Linked DNA regions of Homo sapiens. The protein of the gene in region 2 interacts with the protein of the main gene of each other region in a biochemical or structural test. Each region holds a gene or a part of one and is shown on either strand. Other genes may lie near its edges.

Region 1 (12,123 bases), on a different chromosome or scaffold from region 2:
TGGCTCACATCTGTAATCCCGGCACTTTGGGAGGCCAAGACGGGCAGAGTGCCTGAGGTCAGGAGTTCGAGACCGACCTGGCCAATATAGTGAAACCCTGTCTCTAGTAAAAACACAAAAATTAGCCGGCTGTGGTGGTGGGCACCTGTAATACCAGCTACTCAGGAGGCTGAGGCAGGACAATCGCTTGAACCTGGGAGAGGAAAGCTGCAGTGAGCCAAGATCGCGCCACTGCACCCCAACCTGGGCGCCAGAGCGAGACTCCATCTCAAAAAAAGCAATCTGCCTACTGCTGGGTGGAAAACCTGCTGGAGTCATCAGGACCTTTGAAAACAGGGAGCTAGTCCAAGCCACACACACAAAGGGTGAAGGGCGGGAAGTCACTCACATCTCCTGGGCTCAGACCCAGGCCTGGGCGCTGATAATGGCAGGGGTGCAGCAGGACACACCCTGGCATGGACAAGGCAGGTCCTGGACCCAGAGTGAGGGACAAATGAGGTCAGCCTCATAGGGGCACAACAGGGCTGCTCCCAGTGCAGGCCAGGGTTGGCCACGAGGAGGGGATGTCCTCACCAGGCAGTATCCTGGTAGGCCCCTGGCTGGGCTCTCTAATGCCCACGCTGGGGCAGGTGGGAGGACATTCTAAGTAATGGGAGAATCAGAGCCATGAGCACTGCATTGATTTTGAGTGTCCCAGTCTCAGGGGTTCAGGTGGCACTGCCCACTCCTGTGGAAAGGCACGGCACTGAGGACCCAAGGCAGCCAGCTGGCTCTTCTGCGCCCTCTGGTGACCAGTGCAGAGGGATGCATGCCCTCAGATCCACCAGGTGAAGACCAGCATGGATGAGGGAGTGAGTCCCTTCCCCCAAGAAGGAGCATCCCGTGGAAACCAGCACTGCTGCCTGCCTGGGCCCATTGGACAGGGGCTTCAGAAGGCTAAAAATTGGGACCCAGTAAGCAAACAGCCCTTTGCAAACCTTCCTGTCCAGTGGACAGATGATCACTGCCCTCTCTAGCCCAGCTGGGGGACCCAGACAGGAGTTCCAGCTGTTGTCGGCAGCTATTCCAAGGACCCTCCTCCTCCCTGCCCCTGCAAACAGACGTGCATTCATACACATTTCTTTGTTAGGCAAAAACAAAAATCTCATGAGAAGCATTAAGACACACATTCTTTCCCCTTCAGTAATCCGAAATTGTACAGAAAGCATGGTTATGTTTGGGGAGGCCCAAACACATACCATTCCCTCCACTTCACTGTGCCGCACCCCCTCACCGCCACAGGACACCCTCCCAGCCACCACCCAACTGCACCAGCTCTGTAAACAAACCCTGGCTCTCGAGTGCCTTCTAATGGGGTTGGTACTGCTCTGCTAGGCCAGTGACAAATGGCCATCAGAGATGTGGCTCGGGTCAGCATTGTCCTTCCTGGTGCAGGCCATGGTTTTATCAGAGCACTGACCACCCTGTGGCACTGTAACAGGTGACCATAGGAGACTTGTGCCTGGAGAACTTGGGGCCACTGTGGTAGGAACAGCAGGGGTTCTGGAAATGGACACTAATCCTAGGATTGGAACCCCAGCTTGCTGTCTGCTCTCTGGGTGTCTCAGCCTGTCTCCCACCTGCCTGGGACTGTTTTCTCTTGGGTGGATTGGGAAGCTCATGTGTGGCCTCATCTCACGGGGTGAGGTGAAGACTCAATGAGGCACTACCTGGGTTCCACGGGGTGTCCCCCGTGGGTCTCTCCCCCAGGGTGTCCCTGCCCCCTGTGCAAGCCAGTTTCTGCTGAATTACCCAGCCAGCTTTGCCAAACCACCTGACTTTCCCTCCAGAAGACTCCAGGCAGAAAAACAGGGTTAAAGACCTACCCCTTCTGAACTCTGTTTTCGATTGTCTAGTGCAGAAGCAAGTCCTCCGACAGCCTGAGGATCCTCATAGGTTACCCTGGAGATGAAGAAGCAGCACAAGCAGAGTTCATTTTCCTCCAGTGGTCATGGAGGGATGGGGTAGTGGCCTGTAATCACTTCTATCCTATGGTCCTTCCTCAGATGTCCTTGGAAAAACATTTCCTGAAACCTTGACATTGAGCAGAGGCTAAGGGCTCATGTTGTCTGTCTCCCTGCAGTGGATGCTAGGAGGCCTGGGTCCTAGCTCAGGCTGAGCCACTAATCTCTGCGATCTCAGATTTTGTGCACCTCAACATCCCTCTCTTGAGTAACAATACTGAGCATCTCTGAAGCTGAATGTCCAAAGTGCCCTAATACTCCTCAGAGGGAAGACTAGATAAACACAAAGTAACATTAATTCTTATTTTATTAGCAGCAGCCTCAGTGGCATTTGACAGGGAAGGTGGTCTCTGGGACCCGGGCCTGTCACTGATTATGGGAGGTCTTCCTCCACTCTCCGACTCCTTTAGCTATATCTGTTTTACAATCAACCTTTGGTGGTGAAGGGTACATGGGACCTTGGGTTTCTGCTTACCCTACTGAGCCCCAAGCAGGACTCAGGGTGCTGAGTGCACCAAGATGCTGGGTCCCTGGGAAAGGTGGGAAAAAGTGTGTTTCACCCGCCTTTAGGCTGAACAGAAAGCTCAAAACATGTACAGTGCCTCCCTGAGATGTAGGAGATTCTCTCTTTTGGAATCAACTCCCTGAATTCCAGATGGCTCATCCTAGCCAGAGCTGCTATCAGAGGAGCCTCTGCTCTGACCACTTATTTTAGTCAGGAAAATCTCGCTGTAAGGAATGGGTTCACCCTGCATGGCTGCACCCTCCTGCTTCCAAGCTTCTCCTGTGGATGAGGGGCCAGGCAGGGTGGTGTCTGCAGCAGCAGCAGCATGGGGAGAAAAGAGAAAAGCTGTCTCTTACAACTGACAGGAGAAATCACACTCCAATCAACCCCAAGGGCAGGAGAGTGTGTGTGTGTTTGGGGGGGTGGGGGAGGAGGTGGGCAGTTGGTATTTATTCAGTATCTGCATCTAATGCCAAGTCCTTACAGCCATGCTTTAAAGTTCCTGGCAGTCCTGGACATGGTAAATAAATGCCTTTTTGTGCTGGCCTGTGACCAGGCATGGGTCAATCCCCCCAATATCTTTAGAGAGCCACTAAAAGGGGCCCCACATACGTCTTGCGCTGCTCAGCCAAGGAGTTTCCTCTCGTCTGGGCAAACATGTCAAAGCCGTCACGGGGATTACATTGCTGGAGTGAACTGAGGGTGCCACTGACGCTCTCTGTCCCCAAGTCTGTGGCAACAAAACAAATGGGTGGCAGATGAGAACAAAATGTAGACTGTAGATCTGATGAAGGGCCCCCAAGCTAGGACGCCAGCCAGGTGGGTTTAGGTTCCATGGGGAGGGTGGGGCGGGACTTTCCTTGGTACTCCCAGTGCACCACATGCCGGAGGAGCCAGGGCGGGCCAGATGGGGGACAGAACAGCCACTGCCCCTCAAACTGCTCAAGGAGGCGAAAGAGTCATAACAAAAAAGAGATTGCTGGGGTGACAAGGCAGGGACTGGCGCCAGTGCACCTGCAGATTTTCCATAATGCCCTTCTCGCTTGGGCTCCTCATTAACTCAATCACAATGTCCAAGGACCTGGAACATCTATTTATTCAGCAAATATTTCTTAGGTACCCACCATGTTCAGAGCTAGATCTTGAGTAGACCAAATTGAATCTGATATGGTCCTCAGCTTCAAGAAGGTCAGAGTGGGCAAGAGACAAGCCACAGCAGTGCTTGGCTTGAGACATCAGGAAAGACTCAAAACCAACACAACAGTGGGTCTGTAAGGATAATGAGGAGGATGCTGTGGGGAGAAGGGGAAAGGCAGATAAAAAGGCACGGGGTTTGGAGGCCAGGGTGTGTGAAGTGAACAACGCTCACAGGAAAAAATTTGTGGAGGAAGTGGCTGGTAATACCTCAAATGCCAGGTAAAGGAGTGGGTGGGAAGACACTAGACTTTTTTTTTTTTTTTTTTTTAAAGAGACAGAGTCTTACTCTCTTGGCATGATCATGGCTCACTTTAGCCTTGACCTCCCGGGCTAAGTGATCCTCCCACCTTGGCCTCCCAAGTAGCTAGGACTACAGGTATGTGCCACCATGCCCAGCTGTTTTAAAATTATTTTGTAGAGACAAGGTCTCGTTATGTTGCCCAGGCTGGTCTCAAACACCTGGCCTCAAGTGATCTTCCCACCTCGGCCTCCCAAAGTGATGAGATTGCAAGTGTGAGCCACCACCCCTGGTGGACACTACACTTTTGTTGTTGTTGTTGTTTTGTTTGAGACAGGGTCTCACTCTGGATGCCCAAGCTGGAGTGCAGTGGCATGATCTCAGCTCACTGCAGCCTCAACCTCCTGGGCTCAGGAGATTCTCCTACTGCAGCCTCCTGAGTACCTGGGACTACAGGTGTGTGCCACCACTCGCAGCTAATTTTTTTGTATTTTTAGTAGAGATGAGGTTTTGCTATGTTGCCCAGGCTGGTCTTGAACTCCTGGACTCAAGCAATCCGCCTGCCTTGGCTTCCCAGAGTGCTGGGATTACAGGCGTGAGCCACTATGCCTGGCCTACTATACCTTTTTTAAGAAGAGAGGTAGCAGAATCCAATTTGATTTTTTTTTTTTTTTTGAGACAGAGTCTCGCTCTGTCACCCAGGCTGGAGTGTAGTAGAGCGATGTCGGCTCACTGCAAGCTCCGCCTCCCGGGTTCACGCCATTCTCCTGCCTCAGTCTCCCAAGTAGCTGGGACTACAGCCGCCCACCACCACGCCTGGCTAATTTTTTGTATTTTTAGTAGAGACAGGGTTTCACCGTGCTAGCCAGGATGGTCTCGATCTCCTGACCTTGTGATCCACCCGCCTCGGCCTCCCAAAGTGCTGGGATTACAGGCGTTAGCCACCGCACCCGGCTTTTTTTTTTTTTTCTTTTTTGAGATGGCATCTTGCTCTGTTGCTCAGGCTGCAGTGCAGTGGCACAATCTCGGCTCACTGCAACCTCCGCCTCCCGGGTTCAAGCGATCCTCCTGCCTCAACCCCCCTAGTAGTTGGGATTACAGGCACACACCACCATGCCCAGCTGATTTTTGTATTTTTAGTAGAGATGGGGTTTTGCCATGTTGGTTAGGCTGGTCTTGAACTCCTGACTTCAGGTGATCCACCTGCCGCAGCCTCCCAAAGTCTTGGGATTACCGGTGTTACACTTTGAATTTTAAGTATTAAATCTGGCAGTCATATATGCTGGACTGACTGAAGGCAGAGACATCTGTTCTGATACAGAAATAGTGGCTACAAATATACGAAATATTGAGAAGCTACAATTACAGCAACTGATAGCCACTAGAAGTTTAACTCAAGTCAAATGAAAGGAAAGTAGACGAGAAATATTTTTTAAAAAGGAAAACAGAAAAGCAAGACAGAGGAAAGAATTTTGAGGGCCATGCTTATTATTTCAATGTTATAATTTCATTTGTTATAAATTGGTATCATCCAGTATAACCAATGTGCTAGAGTCATATACACACTTTGAATGTACAAACTAAATGAACTGTGGAAAGTGGTGAGTTTCTTTTAAGTTCCAGACAATGGACTGCTTTAGGCTGATGGTAAAGTTCAAGGAGAGCAAATATTTCAGTGCTGCTACCTCCTGTTTCCAAGCCCTCTGTAGATATTGACAATCAATCAATCACAGACTTTTCTAAGCCCTGATGTGGCTTCAGCATCCTCCTCAAACCTGTGTTCCAAGAAGCCAAAGAGCTGAAACCTATCTGCCCTCCTTGACCTAGTTAATATTTATTTATTTTTTTGAGATGGAGTCGTCCCCCAGGCTGGAGTGCAATGGCGCGATCTCGGCTCACTGCAACCTCTGCTTCCCGGGTTCAAGCAATTCTCCTGCTTCAGCCTCCTGAGTAGCTGGGACTACAGGTGCCCGCCACCAAGTCTGGCTAATTTTTTTGTATTTTTAGTACAGACGGGGTTTCACCATTTTGGCCAGGCTGGTCTCAAACTCCTGACCTCAAGTGATCCACCCACCTCAGCCTCCCAAAATGCTGGGATTACGCGCCCGGCCTTGACCTAGTTAATATTGAAAAGGAAATTACTTCAATCATAGGGAATGTTCCATATAAAACATGGCAGGTGACCTTTCTTTTTTTTTTTTTTTTTTTTGAGACAGTGTCTTGCTCTGTCGCCCAGGCTGGAGTGCAATGATGCGATATCGGCTCACTGCAACCTCCACCTCCCAGGCTCAAGTGATTCTCCTGCCGCAGCCTCCCGAGTAGTTGGGATTGCAGGTGCCCACCATGCGCAGCTAATTTTTGTATTTTTAGTAGAGACTGGGTTTCGCCATGTTGGTCAGGCTGGTCTCAAACTCCTGACCTCAGGTGATCCACCCACCTCGGCCTCCCATAGTGCTGGGATTACGGGCGTGAGCCACTGCGCACGGCCGTGACCTTTCTTTAATTCATTGGAATTTCCCCCATCCCTGCTTTCCAACATAGATTTTAAACTTCAAATTTAGGGGGAAAAAAGGTATGAATTGAAAGTAAGGTGGTACAACTGGCTAGGACTCAGGAATACACTTTCACATGTATTTCCCAAAAGACTCTCTTTGGGTCTTCCAAGAAAGAAAGAGAGGTGGCCTGCAAGGGAGGCCAGTGGTAGGAAGTAGGTAGGCCCTTTTGTCCCTGTGAGACACTCACCTAAGCCTGCAAGCTGGGAGGAGAGGGAAGATGGGGGCGCTGTGTTCCCCACCATTGGGCTCACCACGGCTGGAGACCCTGGCCCCAGGTCTATTAAGTTGTCTTCGGTTACTTCATTCAGTACCTGTCAGAACATGAGATTGGCCATAAGCCCCAGAACCCTGGAGTCAGGCTCTGAGGTAGAAGCTGGCAAGGCAACTATGCAGGGTTCCAAGAAGAAAAGTATCAGCGCTGCTCTAGTACAGAAGCAAGGCCACTTCCCCCACCTGCCTTCCAGGTCCATGGTGGGCCTGGATGTCAGTGAGCCCTGCTCACTGCCTCCTCCCCGTCCCCACTAGAAGGAGGGGTTGCTGAGTCAACAGTGACTGTCCTGGGAGATGCAAACTTAGGGCTTGCTTGCCACCTTCCCATCAGGGGTGCCTGCTAGCTCTGCCCTAGTATCCCATCAACCAGAGCTTGCCTCTTCAATTTCCCAAATATTTCAAAACCAGTTAGAAAAACTGGAGGTCTCTCCAGCCTCCAAAACGTGGAGGGGTAGGTCTGGCCTCAGGAGATGACAGGATTCTGAAGGAATACTTACTCCATTACTGGCATTTTGAACGGATCGGCCAGACCTGTATCGTTCGAACCTAACAGGGGAAGGGAAAGCAGAAGTAAGGAGAGAGGATGCCTGTGATATGGCCCTGTGGGGTGCTCACTAGTCCTATGAAGAATCCCTGGGACCAAGACCAGCCAGTCCCACCTGGGGGCTAGGGAGTGAAACCATATATCAACTCTGCCACGGCTTCCTCTGTGTGGGGCTCCCCCTGAGAGGATCAGCTTCTCACCCAGCACCCAGAGTGGGCATCAGAAAGGGGTGGTGGCTGGCCCATCATGGAGGTCATTGTGAGTGTCCCCAGCCTCTCCTCACACACCTGGGCCCTGGAGGGAGGGTGGCTTAACCACCTTACCTTGGAGCTGCAGACTCCCTATTTCATAGGGCTGTGTTCAGGAGCAACTAGCTAGTGTTCCTAACATGCTCCCAACTCAGCCTCTGGGGAAAGGGGGTGGGGCACACATAGGGTGGGCACCAGCAGGAGGAAGGCGGACGCATGGCCCTGGCTACGGCCTGGGGAAATGCTCGCCAGTAGCTGCTACAGAGAGGCCTGGGCCAGTCATCGAAGGACTGCTAGGAGGGTGGAGTGAGTGTCCTCTGCACCCAGTCAGGCAGTGCAGGGGGAGTTGGCTTTGAGCAACTGTCGAAGGCCAGGTCATCCTCCTGTCAGGTGGGGAACGGAAGAGTAGTTATGAGGTGTGTGTTGGGGTGGGGCAGAATAGATTATGTTCTGTATCGTATTTAAAAACTCCAAATGCCATGGGCAGCGGTAGCTAAGAGACTTTTTCCAGCTGGAGCCTTAGACACCCAGCTTTAGTGAGTTATGCTGCTCCAGATTTGTCTCCCAACTTGCTGGGGTCAGCAGCTGGTGACAAGAAAGAGATCCCCAGGAGGAATGATCTGGGTAAGGCAGTGAGTGTCCACTGTGGTTTTAAAAACGACTTGTGTGTTTTTTCAACAGTGGTCTACAAGGAGAACAGGAATATTAATACATCTGAAACAATTTTAATCCTGGGGTACCTTTCCCACACTCATCTTCAATGAACAATGAGTATCATCAAAGACACTCTAACCAGGATAGCACTTCCAGCCACCAGCCCCAGGCTTTGCCTCTGAATTATGTGTAATGCTTGGACTGGGAGACTCTTGGGTGAAAATACTCATATTAGTTAGCTCCTGTTATGCTTTCTAGCAGGGCTTAAATAGGTTTAATAGGTTAAACCCAAGCCCATTTACCATGGAGAAACTGGAATCACATGGCAAGACAAAGGGGCCTCGGGCTGGGAGTCAGGTCCCCTTATATCTGCTCCTGTTCTCCAACTGATGCACTGGGGGGTCCTGGGGATGCCCCCACACTTACTGCAGAGGTTTATTCACCTGTCAGGTGGGCACAGAGCCACTGGTGTGTACTTCCGTAGTCAAAAGATGAGACAAGGCCCAAGGCTGTGACAGCCATAACAAAATCACCCTTTAGGTCCCCAAAGGGTAACGCAAATGCAAGCATCTGTCCCACTCACCCTAACTGATGCCAGGTCCTTGTCCTCCTGATGAATCCAGCAGTAGGTTGTGAGTCAGCTGGTGCGGCAGAGGGGACCAGGACCTTAAATCTGCAGGGGACTCAAGCCACTGTCCTGTCCTCTCAAGCCTCATCTTTAAGGGGAAAAGGTTGGCCTGATCATGGTCCTTTCTGGTCCTTATGCTGAGTCCTTCATGAAAGCCCAGTGTGCTCCCATCAGGTGATGAGATGGGAACTGTGCTTGCCATTATTCCTCCTATTTAAAACTAGGTCTAAATAAGACATTTTGGACTTTGTCCTGAGGGAAGGCTTTGGAAATGAAAAAGAATTTGCAGGTTTGTTACCTCAAACTCAAAAATGATTTGGCTGCAGAAAGAACTGGAATGAATGTGTGCACGCTTCCCTAAGCAGCAGCATTCCGGCACTTACACCCGCCTGCTTCCCCTGAATGCTCTAGATAACATTGACATTTGCAAAGGGAAAAGCTTTTTTTCTTTTTTCTTTTTTTTTAAGATGGGAAAGAGGAAATCCTTTTTCTTACTAGAGATTTTTTTTCCCTTTAATCCTTTTCAAATTCAAAGGATCATCAAAGGAGCAGGTGCAGAAGCTCTGGGGCCCAGAGGCCCCCAAGTGCTACCCCTCCCTGGGGCTGGGGGTGGCGGGGCAGTGGGGAAAGGCAGAGCAGCCTGAGGCTTACAAAGGGCAGAGCCTAATTCTGCACGTCAACTTCCTGCTGCTTCTGCTGCTCAGTTCCCAGGAGGACAAGAAGCATTTTTCCTGTCAGCCGGGAACAAATTAGCATCTCTGATGAGTATTTTCCAACTCTAATCTCTCTCCCTCTCCCTCTCTTTCCTTTGTTTATGAAAGAAATCCCTCTGTTATGGCAACAATCTTTTCAAGGGAAAAAAAAAAAAAAAGAAATCCGGCTCCCACCTCTCGTATCGAAGGAAGACGTTGTTGAGGTCATCGTTCACATGCAGCAGCTCCTCGGTGACCTCCTCATTGGACACGCGGGAGATGAGCTCCACGATGCGCTGCTGCATGGCCCGACAGGTCCTGTTGAGCTCCTAGGGAACACATGCACCTCTGGGTAGCCTGCTGGGTGTGCTTTTCGTCACATTCTATCTCCTTTGAAAAAATTTGTACTGATTCTTAAAAGTCACAAAAGGAGTACATGCTTGTTCATAAAACCAGACATGTGCCGAATTCAAAGTAGAAGTTCCCTCTTCACTGCCTGCCCCTCCTTCCGCAGAGGAAACAAGTACTTTTTCAGCAGACAAATGTCCAGACATACTGTTGTATGTATACAAGTACATGCTTGTACAAATCATTAAAAAATATTAAAATGTGATTCTTTCCAGATTGCTTTTTCTCAACAAAATATTCCAGACACCGTTCTCCATCACTTGGTACAGACTGCCTCATTCCTTTCTGTGTGTTTCATAATGTATCTCGCCATTCTTCTATTGCTGGACATTTAGATTGTGGTCTCTCTTTTTGTGGCCAACCTAAATAATGCAGCAATGAACACCTGTACACACACATGCATATGCACTTGGGCAAGCACTTCCATAGGACAGGTTCCTTAGCAGGGAAATTTCTAGGTGAAAGGGTATGGTCATTTATAACATTAATTAGTAATAGTAAAAGGCCCTCCAAAAATATGACATCAGTTTACTTACACTTCCAGCAACAGCAGGAGTGTATTTTATGACTGCATTAGGTATATTTTGGTGGCACGTCTGCCACTTTGCCGAGACCTCAGAAGCCCAGGCAGCTCCCTGGCTGGCCGAAAGAGGAAATTCGCACACCCCCGGTTGCCCCTGGAGCCCTCTCTACCCTTAGAAGCAACATCCCCGTGACGACAGAGCCTTAGCACTTTATGGCCTGGCTTCCATGAGCCTTCCCTGTTCCAGAACAGCAGACTTACTGATGCCCTTGTTCAAACTTGCTTACAGAGCTCCGTCAATTCCTGCCAGGCCCCTTGCCATCTCGATGCCAGACTGAGGATGCTACAGAGGAGGGAGCTGGCAACACTGCCAGGCTGGCCCCCAAGCATGTGACCAAAGCTACAAGTCCCAGTGTGCCATACAGGGTTAAAGCAGAGGGAAATGCTGTTCCCACCTACCTGGGCACTGGAGGGTGCCAGTGAGTTAAGGGGATAAGACATGAAGGATAAGTCTCTCCTTCTCACAGCTCAGCCTCAAAACGACTTCATTTTGAAACCGTTTCTGGTAGAAGTAACTGATTTATTCACAGGAGACACGGCAATCTCTCTTTAGTTCCTCATATTGTCTCATAATCTTGCTAGCTTGGCTACAGGGTCTTCCTTCCTACCACATCATAAACTCTTGAGGGGGTGTTACCATTTATCCACTCAAGGATGCCCTCAAGCCCCGCACTGAGCCACACACAGTGAAAAAGCCCAGTAATCATCTGCTGAACACATCACCAAGGTGGTCAATCAGCCAGTGGGGAATCAAAGGCATCCCCCCTGCATGTCCCTGGTATCCTGCAACACAGCACTCACACAGGGGCTGGGCTTCTTATCTGCCCTCCCGTCTAGACTGAAGCTCCTTGAGGGCAGAGAAGGTATTTCCCTGGTACCCATGACACATGGGAGGCTCTCCCCAAGTACTTCTGAGAGAATTAATTAATGACTCTAAAGTATTCAGAGGCCGGGGCCAGGTGTGGTGGCTCACGCCTGTAATCCCAAAACTATTGGAGGCCGAGGCGGATGGATCACGAGGTCAGGAGATCGAGACCATCCTGGCTAATACGGTGAAACCCCGTCTCTACTAAAAACACAAAAAATTAGCCGGGCGTTGGTGGCGGGCACCTGTAGTCCCAGCTACTTGGGAGACTGAGGCAGGAGAATGGCGTGAACCCAGGAGGCGGAGCTTGCAGTGAGCCGAGATCACGCCACTGCACTCCAGACTGGGAGAGAGAGCGAGACTCCATCTCAAAAAAAAGTATTCAGAGGCCAAGTGCGGTGCCTCATGCCTGTAATCCCAGCACTTTGGGAGGCCGAGGCAGGCGGATCACTTGAGGTCAGGAGTTTGAGACCAGCTTGGCCAACATGGTAAAACCCCATCTCTACGAAAAAATACAAAAATAAATTGGGCACAGTGGCATGCACCTGTAATCCCAGCTATTCAGGAGGCTGAGGTGGGAGAATTGCTTGAATCCGGGAGGCAGAGGCTACAGTGAGCAGAGATTGCACTACTGCACTCCAGCCTGGGGAACAGAGTGAGACCCTGTCTCCAAAAAATAAAAATAAAATATAAAGTATTCTGAACTCTTGGTCCCCGCAAATTACCAGCTCAG
Region 2 (12,123 bases):
TCAAAGTCCCCGTGGGTCTGCATCATGCTGCCTGCTGCCAAGATGGCCTGAAAACATGGCACAGAGAAAGTCATTCAGTCATTCCCAAAAGGCTGTAGCAGTGGGGCAGCTTTCCTGAGTCTATACTCAGCAGGCCCATCAGCATAGATGGGACTGGAAAATTTCTTCCAGGGACATAAATATATCCAACCTATTGGGACAAATGTTCCTGAGGAATGTCCTTGCACTCTACACTGTGGCTCTCTGGCACAGCACAAAAAAAAAAAAAAAAAAAAAAAAAAAAAAAGATAAAATGTTACTTGCTTTACCCATCTGTTTCCTACTTCTAGCCAGGAAAGTCAGTATTTCAGAATGAATACCAGAGCCCTTTAAGTAAAAACTTCCTTTAATCTGTTCTCTGCAGCCCCTATTTGGTATACCAAGTGTTCTAGATACCTGAAATACACCTGTACGTGGCTACTTAAGGTAAATTTCTTTCTACCGTAGAACAGAGGGCGAGTCAGCTTTAGGCTTCATCAGCCCAGCCCTTTCATTTCTCTAAGGAAAGGTATCAAGGTGGGAGCTGACAGTCTAATGTTACTTCCTAAATCAGAATTCAGTTTGTATCCTTTAATAAACAGCTTGTCTTGCTGCATCTCCTCAATGATGTTCATCCATTTGATGCTATTCCTTCTCATTCCCAAAGTCACATCTAGAAAAAAAGTTGTAGTATCAAATCATTAGGACTCTAGAAGTCATTTCAACATAATTATTGTTTCTTTTTAGAGACAGGGTCTCTGTCACCCAGGCTGGAGTATAGTGGTGCCATCATAGCCCACTGTAGACTCAAACTCCTGGGCTCAAGTGATCTTCCCTCTTCCACCTTCCGAGTGGCTAGGACTACAGGTGTGTGCCACCATGCCTGGATAATTTTTTTTGTAGAAATGGGGGTCTCACTATGTGGCCCAGCCTGGTCTTGAACTCCTGGCCTCAAGTGATCCTCCTGCCTCAGCATTCCAAAGTGCTGGGATTACAGGCATAAGCCACCATGCCCAGCAGATTTATTTTTTTTATTTTTTATTTTTTTTTTTTTTGAGACAGAGTCTCGCTCTGTCACCCAGGCTGGAGTGCAGTGGCGCGTGATCTCAGCTCACTGCAAGCTCTGCCTCCCGGGTTCACGCCATTCTCCTGCCTCAGCCTCCCGAGGAGCTGGGACTACAGGCGCCCGCCACCACGCCCGGCTAATTTTTTTGTATTTTTAGTAGAGACGGGGTTTCACTGTGTTAGCCAGGATGGTCTCGATCTCCTGACCTCGTGATCTGCCCACCTCAGCCTCCCAAAGTGCTGGGATTACAGGCGTGAGCCACCGCGCCGGGCCGCAGATTTATTTTTGACAATAGTTGTGGAGGCATTGCTAATTTCCTAAGTAACACATAAGCTTTACTAGCACTATGATCTGCCTTCTGCAGGGGTTACACGTCTATTATAACAAATGTGCACTTTTAGAAGATAAGTAGAGCATACTTGACACTATTTTCAAATAAGAAGAGCCACCTTTTATTTATATTTTTTCTATTTCTCAGGTATCCAAATTTAAGAAGCTATTCCTTTGCTTTCCAGGGTCAGATCACCTCTAGGAGCAGTGGGACCGTCTATATGAAGGCCAGAGCCTTCACAGCCTGTAATACCTTGTAGTTGGTAGGGTCATAAGTCAGTGCATTGCCAAGATGTTCAAATGCCTTCTGGTAAATGCCGAGCTTGGAAAAAAAGCAAACAAGACAATTTACATCAGCAAGGAGACGGCAGTTAAAAGAGTCTGGCCAGACCAGGCGTGGTGGCTAATGCCTATAATCCCAGCACTTTGGGAGGCTAAGGTGGGTGGATCACCTGAGGTCAGGAGTTCGAGACCAGCCTGACCAACATGGAGAAACCCCATCTCTACTAAAAATACAAAATTACCCAGGCATGGTGGCACATGCCTGTAATCCCAGCTACTTGGGAGGCTGAGGCAGGAGAATCGCTTGAACCCAGGAGGCAGAGGTTGCAGTGAGCCGAGATCACGCCATTGCACTCTAGCCTAGGCAAAAAGAGTGAAACTCCGTCTCCAAAAAAAAAAAAAAAAAAACAGTCTGGCCAACCTCACCCAGAACAGAAATGCTCTGGCTTTTTTGAGTTCTCTTGACTTTAAAAAAAAAAAAAAAAAAAAAAAAAGCAGCTACAGTTACCAGATAATAAAGAAAGAAAACTAAAAATCCCCAGTCATGGTTTTCCTTCTATTTTTGTTAATTTGTCACCTGATAAGGTCAAAGTATCTATTTGATAAGAACCATCTCTGCCACACTAGTACTGTTCCACATTAATGCCTCTTTGCAGGAAATGAGCTGGGTATCCTCATCTCCCGTGGAGCCAACCTCCCAAGCCAAAGCCCAGGAAGACCCAGGGTTAAGCTCCTGATTCCTTTTAAAGAAAAATGAAATAGACATAAAGGCCACCACAGAGGCAGGGCTGGAGGCAGAATCAGCTGACCAAGGAACTTGGCAAATGTGTATATTGGGGAAGAGGGAAAAGCCCCTTGGATACCTGGGCCCTGGGTCCTCAGCCAGAGAATCAATGGAGCTAAAAGAATCCCATTCACATTCAGGAATGTTGAGGGGACAGAAAACTTCTTATTCTAGATAAAAGTATACTTTGCCTTCTCTCTTTCCAATAAGACTCTGGCTGGGAAGAAAGATCAAAAGAAATGGCTTTGCCCCAAAGCCCTAAGTGCTCACTTGTATCTGTTTCTCTCCTCACAACAAAATAACAGCCTCCAAGACCAGAGTTATTTCTCATATATGCTCTTTCCTGGATAGCATAAGAATTTTTTTTTTTTTCTGAGACAGGATCTGGCTCTGTCACCCAGGATGGAGTGCAGTGACTCAATCTCAGCTCACTGCAACCTCTGCCTTCCGAGTTCAAGCAATCTTCCCATCACAGCCTCCCAAGTAGCTGGGACTACAGAAGCATGCCACCATGCCTGGCTAATTTTTTTATTTTTTGTAGAGACAGGGTCTCACTATGTTACCCAGGCTGGTCTCCAACTCCTGAGCTCAAGTGATCCACCAGCCTCAGCCTCCCAAATTGCTGGGATTACAGGCATGAGACCACACCCAGCCTAGATAAGAATTATAATTGCACTAGGCTAAAATAGAATTGCTTCCAATTTAAATGCAGAAAATTAATTCCTTTAGCAAAGAGTATCGAATAGAGAGAGTGTAGTTCATGAACTTTATATGACCTTTAATAAAATAAATATCAGAATGCAGGAAAACCACCATACACACAAACCCAAAACCATTTCTAACATCAGTGCATGAATGAGTACAGAGTTTTCATTACCTGTAAGTAGAGTAATCCTAAAGTTGTAAGAAGCTCTGTATTTTCTGGTGAGAACCTGCAACATAGAGATGCTCAGAGGGAAACAAGATGTAGATGAGAAACACGAAGACACATGCACAGTAATATGCCCTCGTGCAATACTTGACAGACCCCACTGAGCCTCTTCCTCCCCGTGGAAATACCTGAAGGCAATTTGGGAATTGCCATCAAAAGTAGGTCATCTCAACCCTGGTGATAAGGAGAACTGCTCAGCAAGAAAAATGAGGCTTAGAATTCAGATTCCTTTCTTAGGGTAAAAGTCCTAAGAAAGAACCTATAGAATGTTTTGCATGACTGTCTTGGTCACACTGATAAAATTAAAGAACAATGCTTTATAAACCAAGTCAGCCTAGAACACACACAGTTTCACCAGTCCTCTCTTGTGGAATTTTTTTTCTATCCTCATTGTGCTCACAATGCCAGGCAGCATAATTTTCTATGTAATTTAGGATCCCAAGGCCCCTAATGCTGTTCTCTCCACTTAAACAAAGAGCTATACCAAGTAGCCAAACTAAACAAAAGAAGGAAGATACATACCAATCCTAGGAAAGAAGGTGCTACTGACCTTTGGGAGTAAACACTGATGTAAGTAAAATACTCACATCAGGGATTGCCTGCTCAATCCCTCACTAGTATTTGTCTTTGTCACAAAACCAAGGCAACACTGAGTTGAGATGATCTGACCATAGGATCATCAGACAGTTTCAACAGTAAAACACCAAAGGGCTATGAACAATGTCTTCTGCTTCTAAGGAATGATATAGGGCACTGGTTACCTATAGGAAGACCTGAACCAGAAGATGCAAAGCCCCAGCCAGGGGAGGCCTGAGCTGACCAAACAGAGCTTTCTCAATTCAACTGGGAATCCGCCTTTCACTTTCTGCCATAATAAACATCCACTTTGATCACTTCCCTCCCCAAAGCCAGGTAACTTCTGTAATTCTAGCAATATTGGCTTCCCCACTACAACATGACTACTCTCTTCAAAGCTGTAGGTCATGAACAATGGTCTCTATCTTCTCAGTAAGGCTTCAGATTTTAGCTGTCCACATTTCTCCCTTAGGAAATTTAGTGACCAAAGTCCTTGATCAGTTACTGGAAGAATGTTCCCCTTGGGATTTATGTATGCTATTCTCAAAGAGCTAACCTCTAGAAGGCAGGGGTCAGGGATCAGGGCTACTACCTAGCACCACAGAGGCACTGAACATGTTACATGGCTCCTTACTACTTGCCCAAATATACAGCCTCTTGATGACAAAAGTCTGTTCTGTAGCTTAACAAACCAAGGGATTTTTCTGTTTTAGACACAAAATATGGTTGAAGAAAATTCAGAAAGCAGTGCTGTGACTGATATAACCAGAAAATTTACTACCATGGTAGAAGACAAAGATGATTAACAAATTAATAGAAATCTAAGTTTAGTTCAGAATCTAATTATTAGGAATAATAAGCCTTGAACCACAGACCAGACATTCTATTAAGGGACCAAACAAATGAGACAAGGCATTTTGCTACAGCTATCCCATTTAAAAGTAACAACACAAGGCTGGGCGCAGTGGTTCACGCCTGCAATCCCAGCACTATGGGAGACCAAGGCAAGCAGATCACTTGAGGCCAGGAATTCGAGACCAGCCTGACCAACATGGTGAAACCCTGTCTCTGCTAAAAATACAAACATTAGCCAGGGGTGGTGGCGTGCTCGTGCAGTCCCAGCTACTCAGGAGGCTGAGGCATGAGAATCGCTTGAACCCAGGAGGCAGAGGTTGCAGTGAGGCGAGATCGCGCCACTGCACTCACCCCTGGGCGACAGAGCGAGACTGTTGAAATAAATGAAAGGAAGGAAAGAAAGGAAGGAAGAAAGGAAGAAAAGAAAGAAACAAAGAAAGATGGGAATGGGAGGGAGGGAAAGGATGGAAAGAAAAGAGAGAAAAAGGAAGGAAGGGAGAGAGGGAGGGGAAAGGGGAAGGGAGATGGGAAAAGGGGAAAGGGGGAAGGGAAAGGAGGAAGGGGAAAGGGGGAAGGGGAAAGGGGGAAGGGGGATGGGGAAAGGGGGATGGGGAAAGGGGGATGGGGAAAGGGGGATGGGGAAAGGGGGATGGGGAAAGGGGGATGGGGAAAGGGGGATGGGGAAAGGGGGATGGGGGAAGGGGGATGGGGGAAGAGGGAAGGAGGAAGGGGAAGAGGAAGGGGGAAGGGGGAAGGGGGAAAGGGAAAGGGGGAAGAGAAAAGGGGGAAGGGAAAACGGGGAAAGGGAAGGGGAAAACGGGGAAGGGGAAGGGAAAATGGGGAAGGGGGAAAAAAGATACTGGTCTCATGCTAATAAGGCCAAATGTTTTGTTTTGTTTTGTTTTGTTTTTTACTGAATCAGGAGATTTCTGTCCCTAATAATATCTCTGAAAACAGAAGATCTGTTATTAACATATGATACCAAAATGGCAGACTGTCGGCCAACTCTTAAATCTGTTATTTCCTTCTTCTTGAGTGCATGTCTGCCCACTTCCCTTGTAACTATCATGTAGTTTTGAACCATGGAATGTAAGCAGGAACGATGTGTGCAATTTCTGGGTCATTTAAAACTTATTACCAAGGCCAGGTGCAGTGGCTCACACCTGTAATTCCAGCACTTTGGAAGGCTGAGGCAGGAGGATCGCTTGAGCCCAGAAGTTTAAGACCAGCCTGGGCAACACAGCAAGACCCTGTCAACACAAAAACAGTTTTTTTTTTTAAATTAGCTGGGCATGGTGGCACATGCCTGTAGTCCCAACTACTTGGGAGGCTGAGGTAGGAAGATTGCTTTAGCCCAAGAGGTTGAGGCTGCAGTGAGCTGTGTTCTCCACTGCACTCCAGCCTGAGTGATGGAGTAAGATCATGTCTCTCTCTCTCTCTCTCTCTCTCTCTATATATATATATATATATAGCCAGATGCTTATTCCATGCTTAGCTTCCCAAACCATCTCCTTCCACCACAGCCTGGATGTGGATGTTACATTCAGCATCAACCATGCAGGTAAAGACAACAGCCTAAGGAATGGTGAGTTAATAAGGAAGAAACCTGGATCCCTGGCTGACCTTGTAGAATAGAGCTGCCCAGCTAACCTAAAGCAGCAGTCATCCTTATAGGTAAGAAAGAAACACAGTCTACCTTATTGAAGCTACTGGGAGCTCTTAAACTTCAGCTTAACCTTTAACTCATACAGTAAGTAATTAATCAAACATATTCACTCTTTTAGGCTTGGGAGTTCACATATCCACTCAATTTTTTTAGTTTCTCACTGTTTTAAAGGAAACAGATACACTTACTCCACTGCTTTCTTGTAGACTTCAATGGCCTTGTCCAAGTCTCCCTCCAGCAAGTGGATCTTCCCCAGCATTATATAAGTCAGATCGTGCCTATTAAGATTCAGGGCATTGTGCAACTGGTCTTGTGCCTGACAAGTTTAACAAAATAAAGAAAACCAAATCACTACCACTGAACGAACTATACCTTTATATGGCTAATGTAAAGACACTTTCTGCTGTATTGACATAGGAACATCACATTTCAGCAAACAGCCCCCACTACCCAAAGACCAAAACATACCAAAACTGTCCTTGTTGAAAAGACAGCTGGCAACATGGGATATCTGCTTCTGGAGCCACTTGGAAGAATTTATACAAGACGATTAATCTTTCTGAATGTTTTCTGCCTGATATTCACACCTATGACTCATACTTCATAAGTCAAAAGGGCCATCATAGTACAGTGTAGAGTACTACACTAAACTAAATCCCAGCTGTAACACTGACCAAGTGCACAACCTTCCCTATGGTGGGCCAGGTTTCCCCATCAATGTGATGATAAATGAATAAATAGATTGTTCTCATTTATTCACCCAACTGCTTGCTGTTCTAGATGCTAAATATATTTGAGTTTATAAAACCAACTCCTTGCTCTGGAGGAGCTTACCTTCTCCTAGTAAACAAAAGGGCTTTGTTTAGTCATTCACAGATTCAACAAGCATTTATATAAATGCCAGGTATTGTATTTGCCTAGCCTGTTAGCTGTACAGTAAAATCTAAATATATTTCTTCTCAGCACAGATCCAACCAAAGACAAATCCTTCTTTTCCCCTGACTCAGAATAATCCTGTGAATAGAAATGTGCCTGTTTGAAATTGTCTCTGAAGAGAAAAATCTCCTAACCAAGTATATAAAACTATAGATCCATCTACAAAACCTAAGGGGCCCACTAAATGTATTTTATGTATATATATTGTTATCTCAGGAGAAAAGTTACTTTTACACCCCAACTGCTAATGTGCATATTTTTTTTCACACCAGTGTGGGATACTAGTTACACCAGTCTGCAAATTGACACAAACTAAACATTGTCAAATGGGTACTAACCAATTCAGATTCTCAGTCCTGGTGGCATCGGAGAAAGGAGAATAAAACTTCACAATCACTAACTGTGAGCTCTATGAAGGAAACTACCCAACGCTCTCATCACTAAGTTTTAGAGCTCTCAGTAATTTTGTCTACTCCTCAATTATGATATATACTTTTTCTTACCTGAGTACCAAATTTGAGGTAAGCTCAACTTGTCTTCTCTGATATAGGAGTCTATAGCTTAATCACAGTGAAATATAATTTCTCATCATGGAAAATAACTATAAAATTAAAACTGAAAACTCAGAAATCAGATCCACTTAAAATTTAAAATTTATTTTCAATGACCCTAAAAACTAAGTTGCCGTCAGGGCATGGAGATAGCTCACATGGTCATGATCACACCTTTAAGACTTAAGGGTCCACTTTTTGATATGTATGTTTTATTAAGCATCTGTTTCTAAACTGGGAAATTTAACTGGAGGTAGAGAAAAAGAAGAAAGGAGAAAAACTGCCATTCCCTCATATTTCTAGAACTTTCCATGTTCTTATTACAAGCAGAAAACAACAGATGAATAATGACAAGTGAGAATTAAAACAGAAAAAAATGTATAAAGGTACTTTCAATTTTCAGTTCCAAAAACCTCTGCAAGCACTAGGGATAATACCAAATGAGCAATGTAACAACTTCTGCAACAAGTGCACCCTCAGTGAAATCTATCACCACTTCTATAAATTACCTTGTTGAACTGCTTCAGGTATATGTAGCAAACTCCTAGGTTATGGCTGATCTCCTAGGCTCATAAAAAAGAAGGAAAACAACTCAGGTGTAATTCCACAGTAAGTATTAGAGTGAAACAACAGACATCTAGAGATTGTTATTGCTCGGCAAGGTTTAAACTTTAAACTATGCATTACAGTCAGCTTTTTATTAGAGTTCATACTCAAATTAATTGTTAAAAATAAGTTCCTCAACATAAAAAAATACAGATTATAAGAAATAAAAGCAGAATAAACAGGTGATCTTCCTGGATCTATGGGGAACCCTGGGGCACATACCCAGCCCATCCCCATACCTTTTTTCTTTAAGAGTTGCCCATCACCCATACCCTTTGCTCCTTCTTCTCAGGAGAGACTACCCACAGCCCCTGCTGAGAGGGCTGCTAGCCACACATTTCCGCCCTTAAGGCAACACAGTTGGATAGTGACACCTGACACAACTGAAGTCCTTTCCCTAGGAATCTGGAATTGGAAGAGAGCTAGTTAGTTACAAGTACTAAATTTACTAGGTGATGTGAACTTGAGGACTGACAGCGCCACCTGGAGTCTGCTGTGATGGAATACATGTAATTGGAGCCATCTGCAGAAGTCTAGAGCTGACATGGGAAAACTATGGTCCATGGGCCAAATCCATTCCCTGCCCTTTTTTATAAGTACAGATTCATTGGAACACAGACACAACTATTGTTTTTGTATGGCTCTTTTGCATTAGAACTGCAGAGTTAAGTCGTTGCAACAGAGTCTGTATGAAGCTATACAAATTAAAATATTTATTAACTGGCCCTTTACAAAAAAAGTTTGCCAACCTTTGATCTACAGAAAGAAAAGATGAAGCAGAAAAGGCAGAGTAGCTACCTTGGATGCTGAAGCGTTCCAGTTCTGCTTCACTAAAAGACCAACCTGCATCTCTTGATACTGTTTTATGGACTCTCAAATTCCTTTATAATAAACCTCCCTTTATTTAAGGTAGCTTTGGAAAAGGAGAAAGCAAGGGTAAGGAAAATGCTCTTGGGAAACATAGTAAGAACTACCCTATTAGTAGTGGAGATGTGTCCCTGTCTGAGGAAACATGGACCCCCAGGCTCAGAGATAACAACTGATTTAATGTTTTCCAAGTCTCCAAAAATAGTAAAAACAACAAAACAGCAACCATTGGTTGAGCACCTACTAACATCAGGCTTTATGCCAGATGTTTTCATATATGTTACTTTAATTTTCAGCAAACCTGCAACATAGTTATAATCTTTCCAATTTTACAGATAAGGAAATTGAAGCTCAGAGAGGTTGAGTAGATTACCTAACTTAAGACAGAGAGTATTGGGATTTTTTTTTTCTTTTTTAGTTCTACATCCTAGGGAGAATTTCAATCATACGTAAGTGCAGACAGAATTAGGTACTAATCATCCTGTCCCAACAACCATCCAATCCACACCCCATCTACTCCCACAACTTTTGTAAGCAAATAACAGCCCAACGTTTTATCCACAAATGTTTCCGTATTTATTTCTAAAAGATAAGGCCTTTTTCTTAAACTACCCACATCGTCACACTCGAAAAAAAGTAGTGACTGCTTGATATTAGATATTCAATTACGTTAAAATTTCCAATTATCTCACAAATGCCGCACATTTAAAAATTTTTTTTATTCAATCACAAATCATGTCCATATTATAGAACATTGGGATTTGAACTCAGGCCTGCTTCCAAAACTTGTATACTGCCAACTTTGTCATGCTATAAGAATGCATGCATGGAGAGAGACAAGGCAGAAATAAAGCCTTTCTTGTCCTTTAAATGTCCTGCTCTACAGTAGGAATTGTTAAGGTAGGTAAGTAAATAGATGTCCTGAAGGCTAACCTCTGACCTTTTAAAATCTTTGACATAGATAGTTGAGAAGGCAGCAATATACCTTTAACAAACTAACTGCAAAAGAAATTTGGAAAGGGCAACAGAACAAATCAGAGTCAAATCCTATCTTTCAGGAGGTAAGGGAACCCAGCAGACATCCTGCAAAGGCAGTTGGTACAGTGGAAAAGATCACAGTCTTAAGACGAGGAATCTTAGATCATCCTAGATCACAGGTCTGAATTCCAGTTCTGGCTCAGCAACTACCTCACTGTAGCAACTTCCATCTTCCAAAGCCTTAGCTTCCTCACTTGTCAATGGGGGAAATTCTCCCTACTTAACAGAACTGTTCCAAAAGTCAACTAAGATAATGGCAGGAGGAATTACTATTCCCCTGTTGCAGCAAGACTGTGGAATACCCTGATGAGTCCAAGAAAGTAGGGCTACAAGGTTGTTTCTTTTTTTTTTTTTTTTTTGAGACAGGGTCTTGCTCTGCTTTCCATGCTGAAGTGCAGTGACACAATCACAGTTCACCGCATCACTGCAGCCTCAACCTCCTGGGCTAACGTGATCCTCCTACCTCAGCCTCTAGAATAGCTAGGACTACAGGTGCACACGACCACTAATTTTTATTTTTTTTTCCTAGAAACTGGGTCTCTATGTTGCCCAGGCTGGTCTCAGACTCCTGGGCTCAAGTGATCCTCCCCACTCAGCATCCTTTTAAAGTGCTGGTATTACAGGTATGAGCCACCATGCTCCAGCTACTATAAGGTTTTCTACAGGTACTTATGAAATATGTAGGGTAGGTAAGGGCTATTAATAAAAGTAAAATTCAAAATCATTAAAATATTCTAAAAAGAAAATAAAAATGCCATGAAGGGGAAAATTTTAAAGAAAAATTTTAAAGTTAAAAAAAAAAAAGGTGGTGGCTCACACCTGTAGTCTCAGCACTTTGGGAGGCCAAGGTGGGCGGATCACAACGTCAGGAGCTCGAGACCAGCCTGACCAACATGGTGAAACCTCATCTCTACTAAAAATACAAAAATTAGCTGGGCATGGTGGCGGGTGCCTGTAAATCCCAGCTACTCAGGAGGCTGGGGGAGGAGAATCGCTTGAACCCAGGAGGCAGAGGTTGCAGTGAGCCAAGATTGAGCCACTGCACTCTAGCCTAGGTGACAGAATGAGACTCTGTCTCAACAAAAAAAAAAAAAAAGAATGGCTGTTTTGTGAATGATCACATCTACTAGTAACAATGGGATGGTTATCCCAAGTGAGTCAGTAATACCAAATGAGCTCTTTCAACCAACTGGATAGATTAAGAAATACGTTCCATTCCCCCTGTGACCCTGAGCTCTCCTGCTTTACCTCTTCCCTATCTCCCTCTATGGGTTCTCTTCTTCTGCTCAGTCCTTCAAAATTGCTTTTTGATGGCTCACACCTGTAATCCCAGCACTCTGGGAAGCTAAAGCAGGAGGATCACTTGAGGACAGGAGCTTGAGACCAGCCTGGGTAACATGAGACCTCATTTCCACAAAATAAATTTAGCCAGGCATGGTGGCTTGCACCTGTAGCCCCAGCTACTCAGGAGGCAGAGGCAGGAGGATCACTTGAGCCCAGGAGTTGGAGGTTACAGTAAGCTATGATCACCCCACTATACTCCAGCCTAGGCAACCTTGTCTCTTAAAAAAAAAAAAAAAAATTTAGAAAGTAAAAAACTGCTAGCATCCAGGGATG

The links.
Region 1: the proteins of BBS4 (region 2) and TOM1L2 form a complex in vitro, tested with the Homo sapiens proteins (one study listed by BioGRID).

Annotation. Positions count from the first base shown.
Region 1 is NC_000017.11:17,859,611-17,871,733, forward strand, and holds part of TOM1L2 (TOM1-like protein 2), read right to left. Parts: intron 9,864-12,123; coding exon 9,730-9,863; intron 7,315-9,729; coding exon 7,266-7,314; intron 6,810-7,265; coding exon 6,686-6,809; intron 3,239-6,685; coding exon 3,121-3,238; intron 1,942-3,120; coding exon 1,866-1,941; intron 1-1,865. UniProt on the Homo sapiens protein: Acts as a MYO6/Myosin VI adapter protein that targets myosin VI to endocytic structures. May also play a role in recruiting clathrin to endosomes. May regulate growth factor-induced mitogenic signaling.
Region 2 is NC_000015.10:72,719,229-72,731,351, reverse strand, and holds part of BBS4 (BBSome complex member BBS4), read right to left. Parts: intron 8,564-12,123; exon of another isoform or gene 8,559-8,563; coding exon 8,505-8,558; intron 6,825-8,504; coding exon 6,697-6,824; intron 3,413-6,696; coding exon 3,358-3,412; intron 1,737-3,357; coding exon 1,668-1,736; intron 48-1,667; coding exon 1-47.